Regions from separate parts of the Homo sapiens genome. Here regions 2, 3, 4, 5 and 6 are each reported to be linked to region 1. The links are microRNA targets in miRTarBase. Many come from high-throughput screens and were not tested one by one. Region 1 holds a microRNA gene; each other region holds the end of a gene's coding sequence.

The links. Region 1 holds the annotated microRNA hsa-miR-181b-5p (AACAUUCAUUGCUGUCGGUGGGU, at 2,167-2,189, shown strand). A microRNA usually pairs through its seed, bases 2 to 8, with sites in the 3' UTR of a target mRNA and lowers its output. Matches are read on the target gene's strand: a 7mer-m8 pairs with bases 2 to 8, a 7mer-A1 pairs with bases 2 to 7 and ends in A, and an 8mer does both.
Region 2: the mRNA of PRAMEF4 is a reported target of hsa-miR-181b-5p. Seed matches in the 3' UTR shown: 7mer-m8 at 592-598.
Region 3: miRTarBase lists AFF4 as a target of hsa-miR-181b-5p. Seed matches in the 3' UTR shown: 7mer-m8 at 3,707-3,713.
Region 4: miRTarBase lists ARRDC3 as a target of hsa-miR-181b-5p. Seed matches in the 3' UTR shown: 7mer-m8 at 2,565-2,571.
Region 5: the mRNA of ZNF667 is a reported target of hsa-miR-181b-5p. Seed matches in the 3' UTR shown: 7mer-m8 at 1,596-1,602.
Region 6: miRTarBase lists PWP2 as a target of hsa-miR-181b-5p. Seed matches in the 3' UTR shown: 7mer-m8 at 4,459-4,465.

What each region holds. Positions count from the first base shown.
Region 1 is chr9:124,691,559-124,696,649 of GRCh38, forward strand. MIR181B2 (microRNA 181b-2) reads left to right here and starts at 2,152; the gene lies at 2,152-2,240. All of the region lies in intron 2 of NR6A1 (nuclear receptor subfamily 6 group A member 1), which reads right to left. The region is part of intron 1 of MIR181A2HG (MIR181A2 host gene); the gene reads left to right. MIR181A2 (microRNA 181a-2) reads left to right here and starts at 884; the gene lies at 884-993. RefSeq lists an enhancer at 3,464-4,009.
Region 2 is chr1:12,874,813-12,879,903 of GRCh38, reverse strand. PRAMEF4 (PRAME family member 4) reads left to right here. Exons shown (of 4, transcript NM_001009611.4): 4 at 1-692. The coding sequence ends at 360. Among named protein-coding and RNA genes, the nearest start is that of PRAMEF4, 8.8 kb to the left of the region's middle.
Region 3 is chr5:132,876,653-132,881,652 of GRCh38, forward strand. It overlaps AFF4 (ALF transcription elongation factor 4), which reads right to left. Exons shown (of 21, transcript NM_014423.4): 21 at 1-4,534. The coding sequence ends at 4,407. Among named protein-coding and RNA genes, the nearest start is that of LEAP2, 5.5 kb to the left of the region's middle.
Region 4 is chr5:91,366,792-91,371,882 of GRCh38, forward strand. It overlaps ARRDC3 (arrestin domain containing 3), which reads right to left. Exons shown (of 8, transcript NM_020801.4): 8 at 1,840-4,665. The coding sequence ends at 4,609. Among named protein-coding and RNA genes, the nearest start is that of ARRDC3-AS1, 11 kb to the right of the region's middle.
Region 5 is chr19:56,436,622-56,441,712 of GRCh38, reverse strand. ZNF667 (zinc finger protein 667) reads left to right here. Exons shown (of 7, transcript NM_001321356.2): 7 at 1-2,384. The coding sequence ends at 551. Among named protein-coding and RNA genes, the nearest start is that of ZNF583, 35 kb to the right of the region's middle.
Region 6 is chr21:44,130,388-44,135,478 of GRCh38, reverse strand. PWP2 (PWP2 small subunit processome component) reads right to left here. Exons shown (of 21, transcript NM_005049.3): 21 at 4,298-4,882. The coding sequence ends at 4,708. It overlaps GATD3 (glutamine amidotransferase class 1 domain containing 3), which reads right to left and starts at 1,796. Exons shown (of 7, transcript NM_004649.8): 1 at 1,641-1,796; 2 at 1,325-1,377. The coding sequence starts at 1,781. RefSeq lists enhancers at 713-1,240, 1,241-1,768, 1,769-2,296.

The DNA of each region.
Region 1 (5,091 bases):
ACAGAATCAAAAATAACCACTATGTCCTATAATGTACTGGTATCGTTTCAGCCAGAACAAATGACATCTGACATTTTAGTTACACTCTGTGTTCTCAACTAAGAAGAAATGCAAGCTTTACATTAGGTGGTGGGTTTTTGGTTTATTTTTTGCTTTTTCAATATGGAAAATAGCTTGTGGACTATCACTAACACCTCTGTGGTAACTTAGTAATGCAGGATCTCAGCAAAGGAGATCATCAATCATGGAGGTCGAGGTTTTTCATCTTCCCCTATGACCTCACCTATAGACCTACCTGCTATTATTATAGGCAAACAAGTAGAAGAAATTTACATGTTTGACTTTGGCTCTGCAGTGATGGGTCTACTCCTAGATATCAACAGTAAGTTCTGTAGTAGACAACAGAAGCAGTATGATGAGTGAGCACTGGAAACATGAAGTCCAGTATTCAAATTCTGGCTTATAACCTTGGCTCCTGGCAATGTAACTTTAGGCAAATCACTTCAAGTTTTTTCATCAGGAAAATGTGGGTTGTTGAGAATTTAATGAGATAAAATATACAAATCCTAGTATATAGCAGATCCCCAATATATGTTAATCTCTTACCCTTGTTAACAATTAAAATACTACTGCAAAATCAGGTATTTTACATTTTTAGAATCACAAAATAATACCATTCAAAGACATTTTCTCAGACATTCATTTGAGTCTGCTTGTACAAATTACTGCACAGTCTATCCCACAGTTCATTAGTTCTCTGCTGCACACAAATTGATTTTATAATTTAAATACTCTCGACTTGAAACCCAGAGAGGAATGTAAGAGCATCCATCAGCGGTGGTCTCACTGCTCACTGGTTCTTGGGATGTGGATGGGAGAATGAAGAAGGGCTATCAGGCCAGCCTTCAGAGGACTCCAAGGAACATTCAACGCTGTCGGTGAGTTTGGGATTTGAAAAAACCACTGACCGTTGACTGTACCTTGGGGTCCTTACAGACGACACTACATTTCCTGAAGCAAAAGAGCAAGCTGTACCTTCACATGTCACATGAGTTCACCAGAAATGGTCCTGCAATCCCCCAAATGTGGTCCAGTGAATTTTATTCCTACTGCTCACTGTTCCTTGCTTTCTGTTGTGTGTTTTATTATTATTTGTTTGTTTTTACAAAAAAAGTGTTTCATTTCAACAAGGTAAGGAGCAGTCCATGATGATATCTAATGTACCTACATGTCTCCTAGATATGCACCATTCTGGTGAGAAACAGGACGTAGCAAGTAAAAATTTATTAAAAATACGTATTTTGTTTTGGAATAAAATCCAGTTAAATAATTACTCCCATTTCTCCCACATCCTCTCAAAATTTTTAATTAGGGGCAAGGGGAGGATTTAATAAGCAAAAATAGCACAAAATTATCCAATTGTGACAGTTCTTATCACATTTCACTTTGAATTATAGTTAATATGGTTAATTTTTGATATCCCAGTTAGAGCATGAGCTATTGCCTTACTAGTGCCCACATATCCCCACATATGCTTATTTAAATGTTTGCTAAATTCAAGCAAAAACTTAGCCCTGGAGTCAGTCAGATCTGGGATGAATCTTGGCTCAAGCCCTTAACTAGTTATTTGACCCCCTAAGCAAGTGTCTCAGTTTTCTCACATATAAAACAGAGGCTAAGAGTACCTATCATGGAGTTTTGAGACTCAATGAGATAATATATAAGGTGCTTTGTACCATTACTAGCCCACAGCAAATGCTCAATATATGTAAGCTGTTATTATTAAACTCCAACATAATCTGCTAATTTACCTCAAAAAAGCACTCATACTTCTCAGTTCAAAACAAAGAGGAAAAGCAGGTCCCTCAGCTGTGGTTTACAGGTACTAATATGCAAGCACTGCCTGTGTGGCGCAGTGCTACCTGTGAGGTTCTCCAAGCACTCCTTCCTTCTCTGAACCACAGCTTCCTCATCTGCAATAACCTCCCAGCTCCAATGTCAATGTTATGGACACCTGTGTGGGCCCTCAATCATGCAGATGGCTGGTTACTAAGGGAGAAGCCAGACACACAGACTTCAAAGAACTGAGATGGAAAAGAAGAGCCAGGAGTCAGCCAGGGAGGGCAAAGGCAACCCCACCAACTGAAAACACTGATGGCTGCACTCAACATTCATTGCTGTCGGTGGGTTTGAGTCTGAATCAACTCACTGATCAATGAATGCAAACTGCGGACCAAACAACCCAAAGGAAGCAAAAGCATGTGCAGAGAGTCGCCTGAGTGCAGCAGCTACTGCTGTGAGTGGGAGCTGCTACTATTTCCAAAACACTAGCTAAAGCTTTTCTTGTTCTCCTTGGTTCTAACATGGAGTAAGTTCTCTAAATTCCTAGTACTTTTCTCCTTTTTCAATAGTCTAGATTTAAGGAAATGATATTTTATAGGAAGAATTAAATACATATCTGGATATCACATCACATTTTAAAAATCAGTACATTCAGAATTTCTAAACAGAATCATATGCTTATTATTTAGAAATTCAAATACAAAAATATACAAAGTAAAAATTGAAAATCCCTTCAATCATCATCTGCAATCCATTTCCTCGGAGGAAAACATGTATAATTATAATAAACTTATTAAGATAATAAATATCATAACTAGAATTTATTTTATATCCTTGAAGACCTTTATCCATACATACACAGATAAATAGCTGTAATTTTGCATGTTTTGGGGGGAGAGTGGCTTAGACAAAAATAAGCTCATTTTTACCTATTGTTCTATAATCTATTTTGTTATTCAGCTATATATCATAGACTTCCACAACAGTCTTTTATGTACTCGTCATTCTTTTAAATGGCTATATAGTATGACTTAATATGAATGTTCTGGTTATTATTCAGATGTACATCAATATTCTCTTTTGACAAAAACTATGAGGCTCATTCATTCTAACCTTTGCAAACCATGTCCCTCAAACAGGAAAAACACCTAAGTGAGATAGAAGATGTACATTTTTCTTAACAAAAAATTTAAATGTAGTATCAACTCTCTAAATCCTGTAACATGAGATAAGCCACTAAATCCCATGTTAAAGAAAGAAAAACAAGGCCCTTGGTCATGAATAATTTATCATACACTTAAGTCTAAGAAGAAGCAGATTCTCATAGCAAAAGTCAAATAAGACAGTAAGAGAAGAGTCTTGTCAAATTAGCCTTGACAATTAAGCAAGCCTTAATTTGACAAGGCTTTCCTGTCAAATTAGGAAGGAGAAGTGATGGGGTAATGAGACAAGAACCAGAAAGAGAAATCAAAGCCAAAAGAAAAATCTAAAGAAAACTATGAGAGTTCAGAGAAAATATCAGGTTCAAGCCAGTGTTTCCCAAACTTCTTGTACACCAGAATCATCTAGAGTTGCTTTTAAAATGGCAAATTCCTGAGCCCTACTCTAGACGAGGTGATTTTGGGTCACTGGAAGCTGGAAGCAAAGTAAATAAAGTTCACTAGCTTAACATCGGCTTCCTGCCCCCATCCCACCACCACATTTCATGTCATCCACTTTTCAACTATTGCCCAACCTTTTGTGTCACCACCTGAAATCGCCACTATTCTGCTGAGTGCAGACAGGTAGAGTCACATTTGTGCTGCTTTTAAGTATCTCCAGACTACATAAAATTTTGCACCATGTTTGGTGGCCAAATATACATCAAATTGTGTCTGATGTTTTATGGAAATGAATGGATTTGGATTTACGCTATCTAAAAAACTAAAACCTACCCAAAGAAATTACCAAAAGGTTTTTTTGTGTGTGTTTTTCTTTCGTTTGTTTGTTTTTTTGAGACAGTCTTGCTCTGTTTCCCAGGCTGGAGTACAGTGATGCGATCTCGGCTCACTGCAACCTCTGCTTCCTGGGTTCAAGTGATTCTCGTGCCTCAGCCTCTCAAGTAGCTGGCCCGCCACCACACCCAGTCAATTTTTGTGTTTTTAGAAGAAATGTGTTTTTAGTAGAGCCATGTTGGCCAGGCTGGTCTCAGACTCCTGACCTCAAGTGATCCGCCCGCCTCGGCCGCCCAAATTGCTGGGATTATAGGCATGAGTCACCGCGCCCGGCCCGAGGGGGTCTTTATAGAAGAGTTTTTTGTGAGACTGGTAGACACACAGAAGGTACTCCACGCAGTCTTGTTTTTCAAGATGCTGTGCATTCTAGGCATTTATTTTTAACCAATTATTTCCAAAATTTCTGAAAACATTAGAAAAGAATGTCTGACACGTACTTTGAAAAATGTACACTTGAACAAGCATGCTATTTATTTACAGACTATTACATAGTCTTTAAATATGCCAATGAAACAATTATATATTTCATTAAACCAAATCCAAGTTTTCTCTTGGATAAAACTAAGTACTACAAGAAGGGAGACAATTATGTAAGTTAAAGGGTGTTTTCTGCAGATAGGCCTCAAAATAAATACCTGTAACAGAAAAATTACATGGCATGTATAGGGGACAGGAAGAGAATAGTCCAGAGACTGTATTAGGGAGTCATAAGGAATGGCACTGAAAAGGTAAAAGGACATATTACAGAAGGACTTGTGAGCAAGGCGCAAAGTCAATTAGTCCAACAGAGAGCCGTTTTAAATGCTAAACTCAGCAAGGAGACAATGAAAGCAAGACTGGGAAGAGTCACTAAGCAGATGAAGTGAGGGGAAGAAAAGAGAAAAAAGAGAACTTTCTTGCACAAGTTAGCAGGGGTAGAACTGAGTCAACAGGAATGGAATGAAAGGAAAGGTTATCTCAAAAAGGCATACTTTGGCTTTTGTTTTTCAAAATAAAAGCCTACTGGCTGACCCCCTTCCATCATCCTGTTCGGTGTATAGCCTCACAGATATTTCAAGATACTTAAAATGCATGTATTTATACTTAGAGAAAATAACATCACAAATTATACATAATGTTCTCTAGCTTTTTTTTTTTTTTTTTTTTGAGATGGAGTCTCGCTCTGTCACCCAGGCTGGAGTGCAGTGGTGTGATCTCGGCTCACTGCAACCTCTGCCTCCTGGGTTCAACTGATCCTCTCACCTCAGCCTCCAAA
Region 2 (5,091 bases), not on the chromosome of region 1:
GATGACTGTGGCATCATAGACTCCCAAGTCAACGCCATCTTGCCTGCCCTGAGCCGCTGCTTTGAGCTCAACACCTTCAGCTTCTGTGGAAATCCCATCTGCATGGCCACCCTGGAGAACCTGCTGAGCCACACAATCATACTCAAAAACTTATGCGTGGAGCTGTATCCTGCCCCCCGGGAGAGTTATGGTGCTGATGGTACTCTCTGCTGGAGCAGATTTGCTCAAATTAGGGCTGAGCTGATGAACAGAGTGAGGGACTTAAGGCACCCCAAGAGGATCTTGTTCTGTACTGACTACTGCCCTGACTGTGGCAACAGGTCATTTTATGACCTGGAGGCAGATCAATACTGCTGTTGAATGCCTGCCTATTTGGATGGGTATGTCAAACGCTTTCTTCTGGACACTTGGAAACTAAAACCTAGGTCTTAGGTACATCCTAAAGGGAGCACAGAACCCATCATTTCACACATAGGCTCTGAAAGTGGGAAAGGAAAGCTGATCAAGCAGGGGCCGGACTTGGGGGAAATGTTGCCATGGATTCGATGGGACTTTGGGGACCTGTGTCCTGTAGAGTCGAAAATGGGAATCTGAATGTCTAGAGTGGAATTCAGGCTTGAGAATACATGAGGGAGTTACTCTTGCATGGATGGTTGTAAAGAAACAATCAGAAATAAAGGAAAACTGAGCAGAATCTGTCTGGTGCCCTCTATTATTAAGTAACCTGTTTTCCAGTTTAAGCCTCAGGAATCTTCAGTTATTGATGGAAAAAACAAAAGGCACTGACTGAGTTGTCCAATCAATAAGATGCAGCCCAAGAAAATCAAGGCATTTAAATGAAATTTGGTTATTGTAATCAGTTTCCTCCCATTCTTTTATTGGAGACAGAGTTTCACTCTTGTTGCCCAGGCTGGAGTTTAGAGTGCAATGGTGCCATCTGAGCTGACTGCAACCTCCACCTGGGGTTTAAATGATTCTTCTGCCTCAGCCTCCCAAGTAGCTGGGATTACAAGCATGCACCACCATGCCCAGCTAATTTGTGTATGTTTAGTAGAGACAGGGTTTCCTCACTATGTTGGTCAGGCTGGTCTCAAACTCCTGACTTTGGGTGATTCATGCAAGTAGGCCTACCAAAGTGCTGGGGTTACAGGTGTGAGCCACTGTGTCAGGCTTTTTTGTTTGTTTGTTTTTTAAAGGTCTCCTGTCACTCAGGCTACAGTGCAGTGGCACAATCATACCTCACTGCAACCTCAATTTCCGGGGTTCAAGCGATCCACCCACCTCAGCCTCCTGAGTAGCTATGACTACAGCTGTGTGAGCCACCACACCTGGATACTTCTTTTTAGTAGAGACAAGGCCTCGCTGTCTTCCCCAGGCTGATCTGGAACTCCTGAGCTTGTGATTCTCCTGCCTTGGCCTCCCAAAATGCAGGGAGTATAGGCGTGGACCACCACGCTTGGCTTGGCCTCCTCCAGTTCTTCACTTCTTTAGATGTCTGTTAACTCCTTGTTAGTTTCTGTGGCTGTTCAGTGGGTTAATACACACTAGGTGGACACCAAAGGCCTGGAACATTGCTGGGCAAGAACAGTGAGCCAATCCACACGGAAAGCACCTTCTTCTCAGGGTCTTTCACCGCTATCCAGATGCTGAGACCCTGCCCACTCCCTGTGAGTCTCCACATGCTTCCAGAAGCCTTAGTTGGTGGATGTCAGCTTCACTGCACAAGGAGCCACTCTCTTCCCGCTGCCCTGGAAGGGGATGTCCATATTGTGTATTAGCTGGAGACTCTGGGCAGCATCAACCCTTGCTTGTTCTCCTGATGACCAGCAGCCCTTCTTGAATTAAACTGGTTGTAGCCAGTAAAGACAGCCACATTCCCTTTAAGTAAAATACTAAAACTATACAGGCATATAACACTTTTTAAATATTTCCATCTGACATTTTAAAAGTTACATCTTTTGGGGGAGCTAGGTCAGATTGATGAGAGATTTTCTCATAACACCTCCCCTCTCTCCCTATGAAGGAAGAGACTAGTGCAGCGTGTTCTGGAATCTGACAGCATCAAAGGGTGGATAACGATCAAGGGCCTGTGGGTGATGAGTGACCTTCCCTGTGCTGAGGAATTCTGCATAATGGGCACCCAAGTGAAGGATCCTGCTGTGTACTCAGGGGCTGGTGTTGCTGTCAGGGATGTTAGCCTAGAGCCTCAGCTTCCTGTAAAATGAGGATGATGATGTCCAACAGCTTATGGGACCTTGGTAGGATCCAATGAGATGGTTCATGTTTAGGGCTTGGCATGGGGTCTGGCATACAGTAAGATCAATACATCTTGTTCTTTTTTCTCTTCTCAGCAGAAGTCCCAGCACTTTTCATCTTTCAATCTCACCTCCTTTTCCTGATAATAGAGAGGCAACAAGAACTCAGGGCATGCAATGGGGCTCAACTTCTACTCTCTGCCACAATTTCATCATGATTGCCCCAAAGAGCAGAGCCCCAGGAGCCAGCAGGGGGCAGGGTGGGCATTTCTGGACTGGATTCATTCATAATAAGATCAAAATTTCCAATCCGTATGTCTCGGGTGCCATCTGCTGATAGATCCGACCAGATGGTATAATTGAGTGTTGCAAGGATTATATTTTATGGTGTTTTTAAAAATGTACTATTATGAGCCAGGTGCAGTGAGTCATACCTGTAATTCCAGCACTTTGGGAGGCTGAGGCAGGTGGATCACCTGAGGTTGGGAGTTTGAGACCAGCCTGAGCAACATGAAGAAAACCCTTCTCTACTTAAAATACAAAAAATTAGCCAGGCGTGGTGGCGCACGTCTGTAATTGCAGCTACTCGATAGGCTGAGGCGGGAGAATCATTTGAACCTGGAGGTGGAGGTTGCGGTGAGCTCAGACTGAGCCATTGCACTCCAGCCTGGGCAACCCTAGCAAAACTCCGTCTCAAAAAAAAAGATAAAATAAGATTTATTATTATGGCCGGGCATGGTGTCTCACACCTCTAATCCCAGCACTTTGGGAGGCCAAGGCAGCCTCAGGATTTTGAGACCAGCCTGGCCAACATGGTGAAACCCCATCTCTACTAAAAATACACAAAATTTGCTGGGAGTGGTGGCATTCGCCTGTAATCCCAGGTATTCAGGAGGCTGAGGCAGGACAATCACTTGAACCCGGGAGGTGAGGGTTGCAATGAGACGAGATGGCACCACTTCACTCCAGCCTGGGCGACAGAGCATGAAAAAAAATTTACTATAATGTGAATACTATTAGAGTATAAATATTTGTGTTGTAATTTATGTATATGAAAGATTAGAACTTTTAAAGAATGCAACGTGATATTTCAAGAATGGTTAATGGCCAGGTGTGGTGGTTCATGCCTGTATTCCTGGCACTTTGGGAGGCCGAGGTGGGCAGATCACGAGGTCAGGAGTTCCAGACCAGCCTGGCCAACATGATGAAACCCCGTCTCTACGAAAAATACAAAAAATTAGCCTGGCGTGGTGACAGGTGCCTGTAATCCCAGATAGTCAGGAGGCTGAGGCAAGAGAATCGCTTGAACCTGCGAGGCAAAGGTTGCAGTGAGCCAAGAATGCACCACTGCACTCCAGCCTGGGTGAAAGAGGAAGACTCCGTCTCAAGGAGGGTGAGAAAAAGAATACTTAACTTGGTTTGAAATGTCAAAACAAATGAGATTTTAAAAACTAATTTTAAAGACACTGAACAATAATCATTTCTTCTTTAAAATATATTTAGAATAATACAATTTTAGCTTTGAAAGGAAACATTACAGTTTTAAAAAATATTGAGTTTATTTTATTTTATTTTATTTTATTTTATTTGGAGACAAAGTCTCACTCTGTTGTCCAGATTGGAGTGCAGTGGCATGATCACGGCTTACTGCAGCCTTGACCTCCTAGGCTCAGGTGATCTCCCTGCCTCAGTCCCCCTAGTAGCTGGAACAACAGGCATGCACCATCATGCCTGACTTATTTTTGTATTCTTAGTGAAGACCAGGCTTCACCATGTTGCCCAGACTGGTCTTGAAATTCTGGGCTCAAGCGATCCACCTGCCTCGGCCTCCTAAATTGCTGGGAGTGAGTTCCTATAGGCATGAGCCACCGCACCCAGCCTTGAGTTTATTTATTTATTTATTTTGGAGATGGAGTCTCCTTCTGTCATCCGTGCTGGAGTGCAGAGGTACGATCTCTGTTCACTGCAACTTCTGCCTCCAGGATTCCAGCAATGCTCCTGTCTCAGCCTCCAGAGTAGCTGGGATTACAGGCATGCAACACCACACCTGATTAATTTTTGTATTATTATTATTATCAGTTTTTAGTAGAGACAGGGTTTTGTCATTTTAGCTAGGCTGGTCTGGAACCCCTGATCTCAGGTGATCCACCTGCCTCGGCTTCCCAAAATGCTATGACTATAGACGTGAGCCACCACACCCAGCCTATTTTTTCCTTTACAGCAGTTTTAGATTCACAGAAAAACTAAGCAGAAACTGCAGAGTTCTCATCTACCTTCTTCCCCCTTCAATACACAGCACCCCCACAGGATCAGCACCCACACCAGCACAGAGCATTCATCACAACCAATGAGCCACAGGGACACATCATTATCACCCAATGTCCATAGTTCACATGAGGGATCATTGCTGGTTTTGTACATTCTATGGATTTTAACAAAGGGATAATGACATGTATCCACCATTAGAGCATCATGGAGAGTAGTTTTCTTTCCCTAAAATTCCTCTGTCCTCTTCCCATTCATCCCATTGTGCTCCCAACCCCTTGCATCCACTGGGCTTTCTACTGTCTCCTTAGAAAAATGCAAAAGCTTTTTCTGGAATGTCTAACAGGATGAGTCTTTTCAGATTGCCTTCTTTCACTTGTACAATAACGTGCATTTAGGAATTTTTCATGTCTTTTTACAGCTTTATAATAGTTCACTGACTGGATGGATCAGTTTGCTTATCCAGTCACTGACCGAAGGGCAACTTGCTAGCTTCCAAGTTTTGGCGATTATGAGTAAGTTGCTGTAAACATCCAGGTGTGGGTTTACTCACTTCATTAAATATCCAGGA
Region 3 (5,000 bases), not on the chromosome of region 1:
TCTGTGACCAAATTACATGAAAAGAAGATACATAGTTATTATTTCCATTCCCTTTTCTGGAGACAGCAAGTTCTTTCTAATTAACCATAGGGTTCATGTGAATAGGAGCTTTGTAAGACCAGCATCCACTTTACAGACTATTAATAATTTACTTTTTGTCACTTGCTAACTTGGTTTTGGGGTCTAGAGGTCTAAAGTGAATTTCTCCATTAGCGAGTATCTGAAAGACATGCTCACAAACATGAAAAATTTGGCCTCTTCTCACTACATATTCCAAGGTATTCAATAATTATCTCTTCTATTAGTTTTACTGAATAGCAACCTTAGATGTACAGTATTATTACTGGAAAAAAAGCCTGCCTCTTCAATACATTAATGCATAAAGCTGAAATGAAATTTATGTTCCATGTATTAGGGGATATACAGGTATGATAGGTGTCTATATGGGTTTGAAATGCTCTGTCTCCCCAAGTTACTTAGGTTTTTTAAAAAACATCATCACAAGCTGCCTAACAGTCATCCCCAGTAGATGTTCCTGGGACCCAGACACAAACTCCTATAAATCAAAATATATAATGAGGCCATACTGTTCAATTAGCAACTGGAAAATTAAAATCTTTCCCACCCTGTAAGAGCCCTACGACACTACAGAAGGGCTCAAATACATTTTAAAAGTTAATTTACTACAAATCATAGTAATTAAGCTTTAACAATCTAAAGGAATACACATTGCACCCTTGAACATTAATATTCAAGGTGTCAACAAGAAAGTGTCTTAGATCAATTTAATAAATAATGTGGAAATAGTTGCACTAAGCTAAAATACTAAACACACACATATTTGACAAACTAATTTCATGTTTTCATACATACATACATATATATAAAGTGTGTATGTGTACAGAATTTTAAGATCCAAAGTTGCATACCCTTACACCTAGAAGAGTGCACAGTGTACTCCTCCTCTATATAACTAGGCATCACTGACTGGAACAATCACTGGCTGCTCTGAAACTCCAGAGTACTGGCCTCTAGAGCCAGAACTTTCATTTATAACAAGTGCCTTTTGTAGGCTCTTGCTTCAGAATGCAAGCTCATTCATGAAGAAATGTACCAACGTTTCTGTCATTAAATACAAAATTATGCTGTCTGATCTGTCTGATTAAACCTTTAATGAAAAGAAACGAACAACAATTTTTTAAAAACTAGTGAATCTAATAAAGCCAAGTGTGTCATTCAAAGTGCAGCCCAAGTGCCTATGAATCCGCCACTGCCAGAGCTCCCAGAAACACAGGTGTCTGTGGGCTCACGCACACTGCTCTCAATTGTTTTTACACTAGAGAATTAAATAAATGGTGGTCAACCTTCTCCACTCTTCGGCAGCTGTAGCTGTAAGTTTATCTGAAGTACTCACTGCATATAAAGTCACTTCTTGGCTACTTGCCCAGAAAAAGGTGGCACTGAGGCAAGGAATGGGCTGGATGCTCTCTAGCCAGACTGGAGCCTGGGCTGAGCTGTGGAAACTCCCCTGAAGGGGAATGCTTCCCACAGCCCAGCCCAGTCTGGCCCAGGCAAGACTACTGTGACAACTGCAACCACTGCAATTGGTTCGTTGGTTGCTTGTAAAGAGTCTAATGGTGTATAGGCTGCTGCCTCCTGGCATACAAGTGTAGTCATAAAGAGCAGTCAACAGAGTAACTGTTTAAAATAGTTGTTGTTTCTATAATTAACCATATACTAAGTACAAGTCTCAGACTAAGTTTTTAGCCACTTGTCAAATTCAGTTTTAAATGCTTAGAAAACACTGAGGACACCTATTGAGGAGGGAGGGGGGAAGGTCACCTGTAAAGGAGTCCAAAGTATGTGCTGGAGCAGATGATGACAAAGACAGAACATCTAAGAAGATAGACATGGAGGAAAGGGAGTAGTATTTCCACACACTATGACATTGAAAATTCAATCATTTATGATAGGATTTTGATCCATTGCCCATTACTACCTTGTGGGAAAAATCCTCCACAATGAAAAGGTTGAAAAATTCATTCTCCAAAAATTGACACAGTTTTAAAGAGAAAATATTAGAGCAGCACCATAAACCATGCAGGAAACTCTGCTTTAACAAAATATCAGTGTGACCCCAAAAATGCTCCTGCTGCCTTTCAGGACATACAAGAGACTAGAACACAAGAACTCAGAGGTATCCCACTGGCTGTTGTTGCTGAAAGTCTGAAAGCCCAGAGGATACTTTTTCCATTTCTAAGACATCACTGCAAATTAAGGAATCCAAGTCAGAAAAATCAGAGAAGGACAAGACATAACATGTATTTGATTAACAACCATTATTTCTTACTAAATAACTATCATGATCATTGAGAAGTTGTCCTCTTATGGAAAACTGTTCCTAGAACACACTAAGATTAAGTTAGAAAGATATCAGAGGCAATTTCTCCAAGAGAAACAGGTTAAATTCAACATAATTTGTACATCTCAATCTTCAATGACATCTAAAAACAATCTGAGGTACAAAACAGTTAAGAAGCTCTATAAATATGAGGCCACAGGGACAATGAAAGTTCACTAACTTCAGAAATAAGTGTAAAAAAGTCTCAAACACAAAGGATTCACTGCACTACTGGACTTGAAACTTTTCTATCCCTTCTTTCCCCTTTCCTATTTCAAGCCTTAGCAATCATCTACAAATAGTAGGATAATCTTTTTTTCTGACTGAATGGATTCATTTTTGGAATGGGGAGAGGGACAAACTATTTTTCAAAGCAGCATTACCCAACTGGTTAGACTAAGTCATGTACCAAAGCAATAGCTTTTCTGAAAGAACTAATCTTTATATGACCCTAAAGAAAGATTTAAAATGAAAGAATTGAACATTATTATTGTAGAAGACCAATCATGTATGGACGATCTGGTCCTAGTGTAAAACTTCATTTGTAAACAATCCATAGAGTCTTCATTTAAAGGTAAGATTTAAGGCACACCAAACATGATAGGGGCATGAAAAATAAAGTATAGAGGGTACATTTCTTATCTTAGACTTCTATATGCACCTTGTAGCAAAAGGTACTTTGATATACAACTCTTACAGAGCCAGCTTCTTTAAGCTCTACCCCTGGCTCCACTCCCTGTCCCAAGAGCTCACACTGAATCAAGTTAGGTACACTTTTCTAGTGTGAAATTTTCTGATTCCATCAGAAACATACATCATTGAAGAGGGCCTTCATAATGCAAAAGGAGTAAACAGAAGATAGGTTTAAAAAGGAGAAATTCATCATCTCTACATCAGGCATTAGAACTGTAAGCTGTATAGCAAAAGCACACACCGAAGCTCCAGCCTATTTCTGTATCAGTCATTGCATGCTCATATCAGAGCATCACAATCCAGTATGAGGGGGAAAAATCTGAAAAATAACTCTAACTATCAAAGATAATCAATTAAAGACACACAGGCGGCAATCCTCAGGAGTTGGATCATCCTTTTTTCCACAGTAACTTATTCTGTTTCGATTAAGTGTCAAATGATTAGCAACAAAAAATAACATATGGTTTTAATAAAATCCGTAACGTTCAGGATTGTCCTTTTATGAAACCCTTCAACATGAAATGCTTCTTCTAGAAAGTTTGTCCTCCCTCTTTTGTAATGCATTAAATGCAAGCTATAGTCACTGTGTGATTGCTGTAGTGTTATTAACACACATTCACAGTTTTTGAAATAATGCATACCAAATCAGACACATTTCATAGTACATACATGTAGAATGCCATTTTCTCATATTTAAGTGATTTTTTCATGTGTAGAAGAATATCCTTAATACTAACTGTAAATTCCACAATAATAAAATTGGAGTTAAGATTTCAAATATCAGGTCAGGTAGCAGGTGTAGAAAGAATATGTCCTTATTTTAGACGAACCAATTCTTACTCTTAGAACAGCTACCACAAAAAGATATTAGGTAATAAAGCTCCCAAGGTATATAAATAAAAATGTCTACATTAAATTTATGCTAAATATTCAACAGAGTAAATTTATAGGCAGAAATAACTAAGTCTTAAACTAGCCCCAATCTGGGAACTTAAAAAAATTAAAATAAATAAAATTTCAATTCATTAGTTATGAATTGCAACTGGAATTTCAATCTTATCATAGCTCACGGAAACCATCTTATCAATGTGCTGCAGATTTAAAAGCATTTAAATAATCTTTCACATTGGAAATATTAAAGGGCCAACTGACATGATCGCTTTGGATTATCAAAAACAACAACACATGAACCAACGAGGAGAAAACTATTCCTCATTCTTAGTGTCGACTAGGTGGTATGTTATGGCAGTTTTCCTTCGTGATGTGACACAGTGTTGTGGAGAAAATCAGAGGCAACGAGAATGTGTTCAGTTCAAGATATCAACTTGGCATCCTGGCGAAGCCAGTGCAGTCCCTGCCGGGTATAACGAACTAGATCTGTCATGATGCTTGCATTAAAGATGAGAGGGCCCATTACTTTATCCAGTTCAGCAAAGAATTCTAGAAAACCAAAAACATTCATTAAATGATATATACTCTTTTGAATCACTGCTTTAAAACTATGAGTAGAGATTATAAAACAGCATTCATAAACTCAAAAAATACCTCCTCCTACACTAAAATGCTTACTGTCCATGTTTTAGAGCAAATCATTCCATAGTCTCTCAAGTTACATTTGTTCCCTAAGTCATGCAACATTTTAAACAGAATGTATGGTCAGAAATTAAGTGTTATATATAAGCAGGATTCCATGAATGGAAATGATAAATTGCTATTATGCAGTAGATATTATTAAAATGAAGATTTAATGCCATAATGTGCTACTGATTACTCAAAACATTTTGTGCATTGCTTTTGTATAAGAAGCAAGTGACACAAAAAGGAGGACATTCTTTGCCTGTTTCCTGTAACAGCCTCTGTGAGGTTAGACACTTAAGATTATATCAAACTTTCGGCTACCATCATA
Region 4 (5,091 bases), not on the chromosome of region 1:
GAAAATGACCTTGGGTAGCTACTTTTCCACTTTGTAGATAAGGAAATCAACTTGCATTTTGTTCAATGCTCCATCTAAACTTACTGAACCCAGAACCTAGGTCTACCCTTCTCATTCTACAACTCCCCTCTTCCACACTGTCATTGCTATTCCTTAATTTTTTTTTTTTTTTTTTTGAGACAGAGTCTTACTCTGTCACCCAGGCTGGAGTACAGTGGCATGATCTTGGCGCACTGCAGCCTCTGCCTCCCGGGTTCAAGTGATTCTTGTGCCTCAGCCTTCTGAGTAGCTGGGATTACAGGCACATGCCACCACGACCAGCTAATTTTTGTATTTTTAGTAGAGACGGGATTTTCCCATGTTGGCCAGGCTGATCTCGAACTCCTGACCTCAGGAGATTTGCCCACCTCGACCTCCAGAGGTGCTGGAATTATGCGCCTGGCTTGTTATTCCTTAATGTATTAAGACGTTACTATGTTATCACTGGCTTCTGGTTGAGTGAAAAGGATGCCAGTACTTCCTAAAATTAATTAGCTATAAATGTATACAAAATGTATATATTTGTATGTCTATGTCAGGCTCTGTGGCTCTTGCCTGTAATCCCAACACTTTGGGAGGCCAGCAGGATTGCTTGAGACCAGGAATTTGAGACCAGCCTGGGCAACATAGAGAGACACCAGCTCTACAAACATTTTAAAAAAATTAGCAGGCATAGTGGCACATGCTTGTAGTACCAGCTACTGGGGAGGCTGAAGTGGGAGGATCTCTTGAGCCTGGGAGGTCAAGGCTGTAGTGAGCTGTGATCTTATCACTGTACTCCAGACTGGGCAAAAGAGCAAGACCCTGTCTCAAAAAACAAAACAAAAAACCCAAAATGTATGTCTAGATGCCTCTTTGTAACATACCTTGCATGTGAATATATGTTTGGGAAGAAATATTGGAGAATCATATAGTAAGGCCCATATACAACTTGATAACTCATGCATTAATGTATAAACACTGAAGAAAAATTCTAAATGTGATTCCAAAAGTACTTCTAAGGTTATCAGACACTATAAAATTAAGATTCTTTTAAGACAAAGAATATTCACTGTTTTTAAAATTTAAAGAAATTTAGAAATATTCTTCAAAAATTAGAAATTAATGTAACTTTTAGGCCGGGCGTGGTGGTTTGTGCCTGTAATCCTAGCACTTTGGAGGCCAAGTAGGGTGGATCACTTGAGTCCAGGAGTTTGAGACCAGCCTGGGCAACATGGCAAAATCTCATCTCCACAAAAAACACAAAAATAAGCTGGGCATGGTGGGGCATGCCTGTAGTCTCAGCTACTTGGGGGTCTGAGGCAGGAGGATTGCTTGAACCTGGGAAGTCAAGGCTGAAGTGGGCCGAGATCCTGCCACTACACTGCAGCCTGGGTGACAAAGTGAGACACTCTCTTAAAAAAAAAAAAAACTATGTTATGTTTATGTACTCTTGAAATACTGGTAATTTGAACACAACACAGTGAGAAGGAATTGGTGCCTGAAAGTGAATTATTTTACCTGGTTAAGTTTGCTTCATATTTAAGATTGAAATTTAGAGTCTGGACATGGTGTCTCACGCCTGTAATCCCAGTGCTTTGTGAAGCCAAGTTGGGAGGATCGCTTGAGGCCCGAGTTTGAGATCAGCTTGGGTAACATAGTGAGACCACGACTACAAAAAAATTAGAAAATTAGGTGGGTGTGGTGGTGTGCACCTGTAGTCCTAGCTACTTCGGAGGTTGAGACAGGAGGACTACTTTAGCCTAGGAGTTGGTCAGTAATTTTCTTTAGTACAGACCTAGATACAATTCTTACCCAGAATGGCTTAAAATAGAGTTTAATAGTTTAATTTAATGTGTTTGCATGTATGGTGAGTTACTAATATGATCAAGATTCAAATAAATCTCCAAACAATTATACAAAACAGAAAAAAACAAAACACTTTATTTTCCACAAGGAAGAGCAATAGGAAAAATTAAATCATTTCCCACATATTGTTTTCTTAAAACAGAGCCTACAAGGACATATTCAGCACCAAATAAAAAAGGAAAAAAAGAGAAATTACAAACAGCCATAGAATATAATCTATAAAGCAAACATTTAATATTGCACTTTGTTTTGCTAACATTTTGGATTTTACTTTTCCTAATTGAAAAATCAGGAATCTATCTTGAATACTGGAATACAACTGTGAACCTCACATCTTATGTCAGGAATTGACCAATATTTTTAAAAAAGTAATGCCTCTAAAGAAATACATTTTAAAGGGGAAAATAAAACTTTATTTGATAAAGTTTTATACATTTAAAGTTTTATCACATTTTGTGATCCAGTGCCAATTATCAGAATATTGGTCATTCTTGCTTCATGTGTTATTTGTAAGAGTATATAATGACAAGTATTCCAATGCTATGCATATCAACAATTGTTCCCTAGTCAGTTAGACGTAAGAGAGAAAAGGGATTTTCTGACAATCCCCCTCAAACAAAAATAAAACCACCAAATGCCCTTTATGCCAAATATTCCATTAGCTTTTTTTGAGGGGGACATTCACAAAATGATTCAACAATAAAAAAATATTTCACCCCCATTTCCTTATTATCTAGTATTAGTTTGCTACGGGAGCCCAAACTCTTTAACCGAATCACTTAAAACGCGATTCATTTTTACACTGGGCTTTCTTCACCCTGTCAGCATTTGTCAAACATGAATTGTCTTCCATGTTTTCTTAAAGGCCACTTATGGAAAAGCCTATTTGTTTTGTATGAGCTTTAAGACAGTATTTAACCAGGTCAAGCACCAAGCCAGAGCTACTATTATTTTCAGCCACTTTATTAACTGTGGGGTTAAATGGCAGGATAGATGTAACACCCATTTTACACGTATGTTGCAACATCAGAGATGCTGGTTTTCTTTAAAAACATCAGAGCTGAATTCCTTCTAAAATACAACAACAACAACAACAACAAAATAAGTACACTTGGTACCTTGGAAAATGCTGAAATGCTATCATGAATGCTGGTATATTTGTTATGAGCCAACAGAAAATTACCTTTAATATAAACTATAACTTACTGATGTGATTGTTCTTCCTATGTAATCTATACATAATCAAAGTGAGTGATTTCTCATGTTTAGCAAATTGTTCTTTAGGTAATGAAAAACAGTATTCTCATTAGAAAAACACAAAAATCCAAAAGATTTATCGCAGCAAACGTTCTAGTATTTTAAATTTTGAAGTTACTTTTGGAATAAAGTCGAGTTTTCATGCCATACCAAGCTTGAGCAAGACAGCAAAGGTACAAATTGAGCTCTCTATTCATAACCTCAATGTATGTATTCCTGCTCATTAATATACTTTGCACCAGCAAAAGCGATTTCCAACATATGTGTTTTGGAGGTAATTAAGTAACTCTGTATAAAAATAAATGCACTTTTCCCTCCTTTCCCCAGTGAATGGAAAACTTCCATACTTTCAAAATAATAATAAAAAAAATAATTTTTAAGAGCAACAGCCCTCAACTCTTTGCTGGTGCCTGCCATACTGCCTTTCTTCACTCCATTCTTAGCTCTGCTAGTTTCTTCTTGTATGTCATGATAAAAAGGGAATGTGGGTGTGTAACTTTTGTGTATGTCCCGTTTCCAAATTTCCCTCTCCAAAAAGCCAACCAAATAAACAAACAAACAAACGAAAAAAACAGTGCAACAAAACACAAATAGCATTCCAACAGTTTGGCAAGTGATGCGTTCACCTGAGATTAAGTGATTTTAGGCAGTCAGTAACAAAATGCTGCTTTGCTGTAATAGTAGAAAGGCAACAAATTCTTAAAAGAAACCAAGAAGGTATACAATCTTGACAGTCTCTTATTAGCTTCCTCCTCTTATCTCTTTTTTTCCCACATTATCTGTTGCGTATCTACTACAGTAGGCTGCAAAACATACAGCAAAAAGGATTGGCTTGAAGGCATTTGATGTTTGTAAATAAATCCACAATTGGATCCAAGCTGAAGAGGTGATACATAGTCAGCCTAGTAGACAATTCTGAGCATGTGCATACGCAGGTAAAGTCCAGGCTATATTAAATAAAAAAAAATGTCAGTGCGTTTTTTCATGTTAAAGTTTTTTCAAAGCTTTGTTTTGTTCCTTGTTGTGCTGACCACAAACAAGTTTTAAGAGTATCAAGAGTCTGGCAAAAATAGAAAAAAAAAAAAAAAAAAAAAGAAGCTGTAGTGACGTCGAACCGCACAATGTAAGCATTGAGCATGTGCAAATTTTCAAATCAAAAGAAGGAAATCATCCCTCTTTACAACGTGATGTCTTGACACGTACGACCATAGGCTAAGAAGACTGCTCTGAGTATGTGCCAGTTTTAAAAGAGAAAAGCTTAGATCTTCAAGCATGTTGGAGCAGTCTCAGAATGTTGCTGTAGGCTTCTAAAGCATGATCACTGGTTGTTTCATGTATTCGCCATTTTTCTGGGCAAAAGTAATTCCACTTCCTCTGAAACGTGTCTCCAAGATACTTCTCTGTCCTCAGCCGGAAGAGATACAGTTCGGAACCCACATCAACTTGATTCAACCAAGTGTTCCTTCAACGAGAGGGGCAGGATGGTCTATCATCTGCTGACTGATCAGGATTTGGATCAATCTAGAAAGAAATGAGAAAAAAAGTTTACAGAGTTATTTCATGAGGTCTAGGAAGAATGTAGCAAATGACTACAATTCTGAATACTAGTCAAGAAATGTAATCAGAGAGCAAACACAGCTTGTTAGCATATTATATCCAATTATTCTCTTTTCATACGTGAAATGCTATGTGGGGAGGAAAGGGTGTTGGTACCTACAGTACCTGATATTTAATTACTAGATTAACAAGCTTTATAAAGGCATGTCTGAATAGTCCCCTATTTCACAAAAATTAACAGTAAAATTTTATCAGTGAATGAAGACTTTTACTCAGTACTTTAGTAGTACTTAATTAAGACCTAAATACACAACGTAGAATATCTTCATAGCAATCATCTTCTTTTGTAAAGCACCCCTTTCATCCTTCTACAAAAAAGTTAACTCATCG
Region 5 (5,091 bases), not on the chromosome of region 1:
CAAACCTTAAAATACATCAGAATATTCATTCTGAAGAGAAACCTTTCAAATGCAATAAATGTAGTAAAGTTTTCGGCCGCCAATCATTTCTTATTGAACATCAAAGAATTCATACTGGAGAAAAACCCTACCAGTGTGAGGAATGTGGAAAAGCCTTCAGCCACCGAATATCTCTCACACGACATAAGAGAATTCATACTGAAGATAGACCCTATGAATGTGATCAGTGTGGGAAGGCCTTCAGCCAGAGTGCACACCTCGCCCAACATGAAAGAATTCACACTGGAGAGAAGCCATATACATGCAAAACATGTGGTAAGGCCTTTAGTCAGCGCACATCTCTTATTCTACATGAAAGAAGTCATACTGGAGAGAAACCCTATGAATGTAATGAATGTGGGAAGGCATTTAGCAGTGGCTCAGACCTTATTCGACATCAGAGAAGTCATTCTTCAGAGAAACCCTATGAATGTAGTAAATGTGGGAAGGCATATAGTCGGAGTTCATCCCTGATTCGACATCAGAATACACATTCTGAAGAAAAAGCCTAAGGTTGTTTTAAATCTATAAAATCAACGAATGAGGCTATCAAACATATGGCAAATATGTATTTGTCTATAATGTAAATTTTGTGTATATGGGACCATTTGATGATATGTCCCACTTTGAAAGCCAAAGAGCAAAAGTCATTGGTGATTTTGACCTCAGGATTTGAAATTAACTGAAGGAAACTCAGAAGTTTGGTCAGTCATTGTGAATGAAGATCATTTTTCATTTGATAAGAATTACTGGCTGGGCGCAGTGGCTTACACCTGTAACCCCAGCACTTTGGGAGGCTGAGACAGGCGGATCACGAGGTCAAGAGTTTGAGACCACGGTGAAACCCTGTCTCTACTAAAAAATACAAAATTAGCTGGGCGTGGTGGTGCGCACCTGTAATCTCAGCTACTGGAGAGGCTGAGGCAGGAGAATCGCTTGAACCCAGGAGGTGGGGGTTGCACCGAGCAGAGATTGCACCACTGCACTCCAGTCTGGGCAACAGAGCAAGACTCTGTGTCAAAAAAAAAAAAAATTACCGATATTTTACTTCCAGCATAGTTTTAAAGATAATTTATTGGTCACATACAACAAAATAGAATTGTGAAGTCCATTATAGGGCTCTGAGCCTGATTTAAGGTCACAGAAAAAAGAATTTGAGTCTGTTTCTCAGATCTAGAATTATCAAATATAAGGAACTTCTCGGCAAAACAGGGTGCCACTTTCAGCTGACAAACTTGTGGGTGAGAATAAAGAAAAGTGAGTCTTTAGGTAGATAAAGTTGTCACTCATAATGGTGTGTAACAGTAGAAACCTTACTTTACCATCTCCACGGATATGAGGATATATGATCTTCATGGTGTGAACGTCTAACTTGGCTGAGACAAGCTATCAGTAAAAGAACCAAGATATAGTGAAGAATGAGGATTTCAGAGCCAGGAGAAATCAGTATTGTTTTATTTGGAAATAAATCATCTATATTTATATGAGTAAACATTGGTATTTTCATGTAACAATACTGGTATGCAATAAGTGGTGTAATATGAGTTGTTATGGACTGAATGTTTATGTCCCTCCCAAAACTAATTATGTTAAAATCCTCACCATCAATGTGATGTTACTTGGAAATGAGGCATTTGGGAGGCAATTAGGATTAGATGAGGTCATGAGGGTGGAGCCCTCGTGATGGGATTAGTGCCTTTATAAGAAGAGACATCAGGCTGAGCCCGGTGGCTCATGCCTGTAATCCCAGCACTTTGGGAGGCCAAGGCGAGTGGATCATGAGGTCAGGAGATTGAGACAATCCTGGCTAACACGGTGAAACCCCGTCTCCACTGAAAAAAAATACAAAAAATTAGCCAGGCACAGTGGCATGTGCCTGTAGTCCCAGCTACTCGGGAGGCTGAAGGAGAAGAATCGCTTGAACCCAGGAGGCGGAGGTTGCAGTGAGCCAGGATCACGCCACTGTACTCCACCCTGGGCGACAGAGCGAGACTACGTCTCAAAAAGACATCAGAAAGCCTGCTTGCTCTCTGCACCATGTGAGGATGCAGGAAGAAGCCAGCTGTCTACAGAACAGGAAGAGAACCCTACGAGAACCTAACCATGCTGGCGACCTGTTCTCAGACTTCCAGACTTCAGAACTGTGAGAAGTAAATTGTTGTTTAAGCCACCCAGTCTATGATGTTTTGTTATGGCAGCCCCAGCTAATATATGGAGTGGAAAGCCTAGATTTATCTACTGGGTTCTTTTCCTGTCAGCAGTTCAACATGTGTAGTAGCTTTCAGTCTCTGCTGTTTGTGCCAAATATATAAGAAATAAAATCAGATAACTTTTTTGTAATTGGATCATACACAGTTGGGCTCTTCTGTTTAAGTTTTCCTTCTGTAAAAGTTATTTTTGAGAATACCTTAAGTTTAAGATGACTTTGTGGAATGTGTGGAATGTATATGGGTTAGGTCATCCTAACTTTGACCACAATTGATAAAACAACAATCCAAATTGTGAGGGGTGAGCATGCATACAGGATAGTACAACTAACTTCCCATTTAAACTTGTTCTTTCGTATTTGTAAAGCAAGCATAAAAATCCACCCCTTGGAGCAAATGGGTGAGCAAACAGCACAGAGGTAACTCATGGAGAGGCAGGTCTTTTTTCCCCCTCTTTTCTACACACACCCTCTAGCTTGTTAATTCCTCTGCCAATCTGCCATACAAATACATGTCAGTCCCAAATGAATTGTGACACACCTGAAGACTAGGGAGAAGCAAGAGAATGCCCTGCCCACAGTCACCTAATTTCCTCAGGCTTATCTCATTGCCTATTGCATTTCTTGCTCCTCTTGGGGATTTCAAGAGAGCATTAGAATGGCAATACATGATACAGTTAAACTTAACTTGGAATTACTTGTGAGAATTGCATATCCTCACTGCTTTATTTCTGGCCCAGTCAAAAATTCTCATTTCATCTAGTTTTGTCTATTCTCTCCTATTCTTAAGCTCTTAAAGGCATTTGTGAAAGTGCAATAAAGGTAAAGTAACTTTGGGTTCATGTGTCCTCCCAACTGCTTGGAACTCAATTATATCCTAATAGGCCGAATCATTTATTATTTAAATTATTTTGCATTACATGAATTTAAAAAATATATCCAAACTAAGAAGGAAATCAACTTTGTGTTTTTTTAAAGTCCTGAAAACTTAACTGGCAAGAAAAATGTTTTGCTTTACTCCTAGACTGTTGTAAGAGAGCCCATTATTACAGTATTTTGCTTTTAATAGATGCCTATAGATTTCCAGCTTTCATTAGCAAATATTTTCGCTGCACATTTGTTGTGCATGTAAACACCCTGGACCAATCACTGCTAAATCCTGTGGATATGTAAACTAATAAGACACTGTTCTTGCCAGCAGACACTTACAGTTTACCAGGGAATTCAGGTAATAAAATATGGAATTCTGTATAAGGTGCATAGGTAGTACGGAGAAGAGGATGATAAACTTCATGGTGATGGAGGTATGGGGACAGGGATTGTTTTTGCAGATAATATTAAAGGAAGAATGTGAATTTGCTAGGCACACAAAAGTTGGAAAGCTAAAGAGAAAATTACAGATGGATAAAATAATGGCAAACAATAATAAAGTATTTGGGGAGTTACAAGTTCCAGCGTTTAGTACAATGACACATAATTCAATGGTTAGCACTCAATAAGTATTTGAATGAATGAAAATATATTAGTATAGATGGGCTATCTGAAGCATAATCCAATGGGACCTAAACCTGAAGATCACCCTGACATTGAGATAGACCCTTGGGAAAACCAGTTCGGACCCTAAAGATAAGGAATCACTATTCATATCTGAAACCTATGGTGAACTTATAACCACAGCAACAACAAACCATAAACCTTCCTCAATTCCTAGCTATAATTATAAAAATCTTACCCATCCACCTCCCACACACTAAAGGCTACATAGAAAGACATGCCCTTTCCAGGAATTAAATCCATTTACCTTCATATCTATTGTTCTACAGAAGATACTTGGCTTTCAGGAAAAAAAAAATGCAAGGCATACAAAAATGCAAAAATGAACACCTTACCCCACCAAGAAACAAAATTCATCAGAACTAGACTCAGAAATACATAGCTGTTGGACTGACATGGAATTTAAAGGAACTATGAGTAGTATCTTAAGAGTTATAATGGAAAATGCACAACAGGCAAGATTAGATGGATAATTTGAGCAGAGACACAAAAACTATAAAAATAAAATGGGGCTGGGCGTGGTGGCTCACGCCTGTAATCCCAGCACCTTGGGAGGCCAAGGTGGGCGGATCACGAGCTCAGGAGATCGAGACCATCCTGGCTAACACGGTGAAACCCCGTCTCTACTAAAAAATACAAAAAAAAGTAGCCAGGCGTGGTGGTGGGCACCTGTAGTCCCAGCTACTCGGGAGGCTGAGGCAGGAGAATAGCGGGAACCCGGGAGGCGGAGCTTGCAGTGAGCTGAGATCACGCCACTGCACTCCAGCCTGGGAGACAGAGCGAGACTCAGTCTCAAACAATAACAAAAAGAATAAAATGGAAATACTAGAAATGAAAAAACTCAATAAGCACATGAACAATTGTCTTCAACAGGCTCATCAATATACTTGACATAGTCAAGGAAAAAGTAAATGAACTTGACGTTAGGACAATAAAAGTTACTCAAACTGAAACATAAGTGGGGTAGGGTAGGACAAGAAGGAACAGAGAATCCAAGAGCTCTGAGAAAATATCCATTGGTCCAACACATACACATAATTGGAATCCCAGAAGATACAGAATAAATGGGACAGAAGAAATATTTGAAGACATAATGGCCAATATGTTTCCAAAATTTATGAACCCAGAAAACACAAATCTATGAAGCTCAGAGAACCTCAAGGAAGGTAAATATTAAAATCACTCACACACACACACAAACACACACCACCCCAGCCATATTATGTTCAAACTACTGAAAATAATCTTGAAGCAAGCTAGAGAGGGGAAAAAATTACATATAGAAGAACAAA
Region 6 (5,091 bases), not on the chromosome of region 1:
AAGGGCAAGGGCAACAGAAGCTCCTCCTGGGGACAACAGCTGACATTATGGGGGCTCACGCTGGCATCCGCAACTCCCAGTGCCAACAGGAGATAGGTGGCTAAGCCCACCCACACACTAAGCCCTCACTGCCCCTTACGTGGAGGAGGAAACCGAGGCATGAAGTGCAGTGACTTGCCAGAGGGAGAGGTCAGCACCTGGCCCTGGCACTTGGGTTCCGCTACCCATAAGAAATCCACCCAGACACCCCAGACACAAGACCCTGCCGTTCTGCCTGGGAGGGCTCAAGCTATTCTGGGGCTATTTTCTATCCCACCAAGGCCAAATCATGAAACACATCCTGGCCCTTTCCCCCAGCTCACTCTGCCTAGTGCCAACTCCAACCAGCCAAGGTGGGCCACCCACAAAGCCACCAGCCTCAGGCCACTCTCCATGGCCTGACACCCCTTTCGCCACCACCCAGCTCTCCCCTCTCCAGTTCACCCTGAACCACATGGGAACTACAGGTACCTGGCACGCGTGGTGGCCTCCTGCCCTACTGGTTCGGCCTGCAGTCATTTCCAGTAGCACAGGAAATCAGGCCACCAAGCACTCAGCAACAGCTGACCAGTTACGTAAACAGTAACCTGTCTAGGACCCAGAAATACCACGCAACTGTTAAAATGATGTTGAGAACTGAATGAATGGGAATTACTTCCCATGCGTCAGAAACATTTGCAAAACACGGGTGAGTGTGATCTCAGTGTTTTCAAAATGTGTGTGTCCTGAAAAACACTCAAGTGAAATGCTAAGTCATTTCTAGGCTCTAGGTGACAGCATAAGCGACACTTAAAAACTGTTCTTTCTTAGCGTCTCCCTGGGTTTTGCAAGTCGTTTTTGCTTTTTTTTAGCCAAGAATAGGGTATTTAAAATACAAGCTCTCTCGGCCGGGTGCAGTGGCTCATGCCTGTAATCCCAGCACTTTGGGAGGCCAAAGCGGGAGGATCACTTGAGGTCAGGAGTTTGAGACCAGCCTGGCCAACATGGTGAAACTCCGTATCTACCAAAAATACACAAATTAGTTGGGTGTGGTGGTGCATGCTTGTAGTCCCAGCTACTCGGAAGGCTGAGGCAGGAGAATCGCTTGAACCCAGGAGGCGGAGGCCGCAGTGAGCCAAGATCGCGCCATTGCACTCCAGACTGGGCGCTGTCTCAAAAGACAAAAAGTAAAAATAAAATAAAATACATGCTTTCTCTAAGCTGTTCAAAAAAGAGTAAACTTCACTGGTGGAGAGGCCTTCTCGAGGCCCCCGGGGTGGAGGACCAGCTGCCCCTGAGGACTTACGCCGAGGCCTCGTGGATCTCGGTCCCATCGTAGACTCCGCATCCAGACAGCACCTGCGAGAGGAGCGGGAGCTGACCCGGGGGAAAGGGGCCGACCTGGGCGGCGGGAGTTGACTGGGGGGAAAGGGGCCGACCTGGGCCGCGGGCGCTGACCCGGGAAAATGGGGCCGACCTGGGCCGCAGGAGCTGACTTGGGGTGAAGGAGCCGACGTGGGGCGGCGGGAGCGGACCTAGGAAGAGGGGCCGACCTTGGGCAGAGAACAGCGAAGGCTGATCTCTGGAGGCGGGAGCTGACCTCACCCCCTCCGTCCACTCACCAGCGCGACCCTGGCCGCGGGGCGCGGCACGGAGAGGTGAAGGGCTGCGCGCTGGGAAGGCGTCCGACCGCCGGGGGACAGGGACGTGAATGCAGATGCCGCAGCGAGCCTCGAGGCCACCAGGACCCTCACAGCCGCCATTGCGGTGAGGACAGCGGGGTCGGAAGGTCACGCAGGGACAGAGCGTGCGCACCCACCCCTCTACAAACGCGTTGCTCGTCGGGACTGCGCCTGCGCAGCCTTCTGGGCGGAGCCAAGACCCGCCCCCGTCTCAGCCCTATCCAGTGAGTTCGCCGGTGGGCGGGGGCCGCGCCTGCGCAGAGCCTCCGAATAGAGTTCCGGGAACCCTGTCTTCCTTCCGGTGGTGGCTGAGGGCTCGTGCTCGAGGCTGAGGGATGCTGGTGACTCCCGGGGTCCCCAGCCCCGCCCCCATCGGACGCCTCCACAGGCGGCGCACCCTTTCCGCCATCCGCAGAGCAAGGCTGCCTCGGGGCGGCTCAGTCCGGCGCTTCTTACCTTACCTCCGTCTCATCCTTAACTCACCACGAGCGTCCAGGGTCCACATCCTCCTAAATGGCCACTCGTCTTAATCTCGGCGTCAGGACCCACGCGGGGTCAGGACTACCCCTCCGCTTCCATGACTGTCTCCTCGCGGCTCCGGCTCCCACGGAGCGACCCCTCCGGGTTTTACTGACCCCGGGATGTTGTATCCTGGAAACTGCAGTTCCACCCAGGGGCTTGATCTGGGTTAGTCTGGGGGCAAGTGAGCCGCCGATTCTGTTTGGGTTTTTTTTTTTTTTTTTTTGAGACGGAGTTTCCCTCTTGTTGCCCGGGCTGGAGTGCAATGGCGCGAAGTCGGCTCAACGCAACCTCCGCCTCCCAGGTTCAAGCGACTCTTCTGCCTCAGCCTCCCAAGTAGCTGGGACTACAGGCATGCGCCACCACGCCAGGCTAATTTTGTATTTTTAGTAGAGACGGGGTTTCTCCATGTTGGTCTGGCTGGTCTTGAACTCCCGAGCTCAGGTGATCTGCCCGCCTCGGACTCCCAAAGTGCTGGGATTACAGGCGTGAGCCACCATTCCCGGGCGCTGTTTGGGTTTGTTTTTTTGTTTTTGTTTTTTACGTTCACAGCATGGACGGTCAGTGTGAAGATCCCAGCTGCTCGGGTCCTAGCTGGAATTCTTCCATTAAAAAAATCTGTTTGTTATGCATGGGTTAGTTCACAGAGGAATAGCTGGATAAGTGCTGGCTTTTTCCCCGATTTACCCATTTTCAACCTAATAATGCAGGTTTTTGAAATAATGTGAATGGTTACTGCTGGCGGATGTTCACAGGGACACACCGGATTCTACAGACACATCTGATGATCTAGCCACGGCTGTCACTTTCCCCACTGCCGCGTTGTCCATCACTAGGACTTTACTGCCAATCCTTGCAAGATAGTGGGGAACTAGAATAACAGACATGGGACATTACCAGTTACAACCAAAGACAAGCTTGGCACATTTGACTGTCCTCGTTCCTGCTCCTCCGTGCCTGGCCCTCTTCAGGCTTCTCAGCTCCTGGGGAGCGGCCAGCCAGGGAGCATCAGCTGGTGGGAGCGATGGGGTTGTGGGATGGCACAAAAAAACACCAAGCGCCACTCAGAAAGGAAATGCCGAATGCAGACTCTCACTCAGTCGGTGTGGGGGCCAGGACCCTGTCTCTACCAAGTGTGCGGGAGCTGCCCCTGGCCGGGAGCTCCCAGACCCCACTGCAGAGCCGCAGCTCCAGTTGTCCCAGGGGCGACTACTCAGGTGTCCATCGCCATGCACATGTGACACAGAAAAGGGTGAGGCGAGGAGGGGGAACGCTGGAAATTGTTTCACGGAAAAGGGCGAGGCAAGGGAGGGGAACACTGGAACTTGTGCTTTGGGTAGGCGATAGCTAAGGATTCTCTCTCGTCTGGGTCACGGAGATTGTGCAGCCACAGAACACCTGGTGTCATCAGGGCCTGAGCTCCTCCCTTCTACAAAGACCTCTGGTCTGCAGGCCTGCAGGTACAGTGCTGTGGGCCACAAGGCACTGCCTGTCGTATTCATCTCCACTCTCTAGCACATCTGGCCTCACGCCACCCCCGGGAGGCCGGCAGGCAGATATCAGCTCCACTTCCCAGATAAGCAAGGGAGCCAGGTACTACCCAGGGTCTTGGGGGCCACACCGCTGGCGAGGGACAGGCTGGGCCTGGCAGACAGCACTGGCAGTCGGTGAAGTGCCCACCTCAGTGTCAGCCTCAGGTCCTGACCCTGGAGGCTGCTGTTACTGAGCTGTGGGGACCAGGATGCCCTACCATGATGGAGACCCAAGCCTCTCTCATGATGACTATTCCCAAGGGCACTGCAGAGGGGAGGAGCTGTCTCCTCCTCCGTGTGGCCCACGCAGAGCTGGTGCAGGTCTGAGTGAGCTCACCAAGACAGGCCAATCCCAGCCCCAGACTCCAAAGCATCCCCAAGAGGTCAGGGAGAGGCTCTGTGCCCCTGACCCCAAGGATATGCACAGGTCACAAGGCAGAGCCCCCGCTAGACAGCAGGAGCACCCTGCTCTGTCAGCCTGCTTCCCCAGGACGGAGGCCCTGGTGGTAAGGCAGGCAGGTCTTGAGCCCCCACAAGACAGCAGGATACAACATAACCCTTTTTAATCTGAAGTGTAGACTTCATCCTCACGTTAGAAAACTCCATCTTTTTTTTAATCCCTAAGTTCTTTATCAAACCTTTATGTTAAAGATATAAATAAGTCTCATACAAAGTTCATGTGAATACCTCTCTGAGACGCATTTTCAACATTCATCACCGTTCACACGGCCCCGCTCCTGGGGCCAGGTGCCAGTGCGTGCCGGCCCCTGGCGTGACCCGTCGGCTCGCTGTCCTGATGGGCTACATGTGTGCACAGGAAAAGCAAGTCACTACCACTAGTGACAGTATTTCAGCTGTTCTCTGGACCCCTCCTCTTTGCTGGCCCAGGTGGCACAAGGGTCCCATCTCCCTGGCAGGTCTTAGCCGGCACAATCCAACGCTGCAACCGGCTGGCTCTAGGCCAGCATCTCTTCTTCTGAGTCTCTGCCTCCTCCTCCAAGCAGATGCAGGCTGTCATCTTCAGATGCTTCTGCCTCCTCCTCACTTCCCAGCGGGTCTAGGGAGCGTTTTGTGCCCCGCTGCTTGGAAACTGCTAGTGCGTACTGCATGTTATAGTGGTTCCAGCTACAGCTGTCAATCACACAGGGATGGTCAATGCCAGCAACGCCCAGGCCCTGGCCTGTCCTGCACCCAACCACCTCCTCTGTGACCCCTGAGAAAAGCAGCAGGGGCTGGACATGCCGGTTCCTCCACCCCAGCAGCCATTTTTTTCCTCTTTTCCCTGCCCCAACAATCTGGTTCTGCCCCATCCAGCCCTGGGGCAGCAAAGGCCTTCAAGG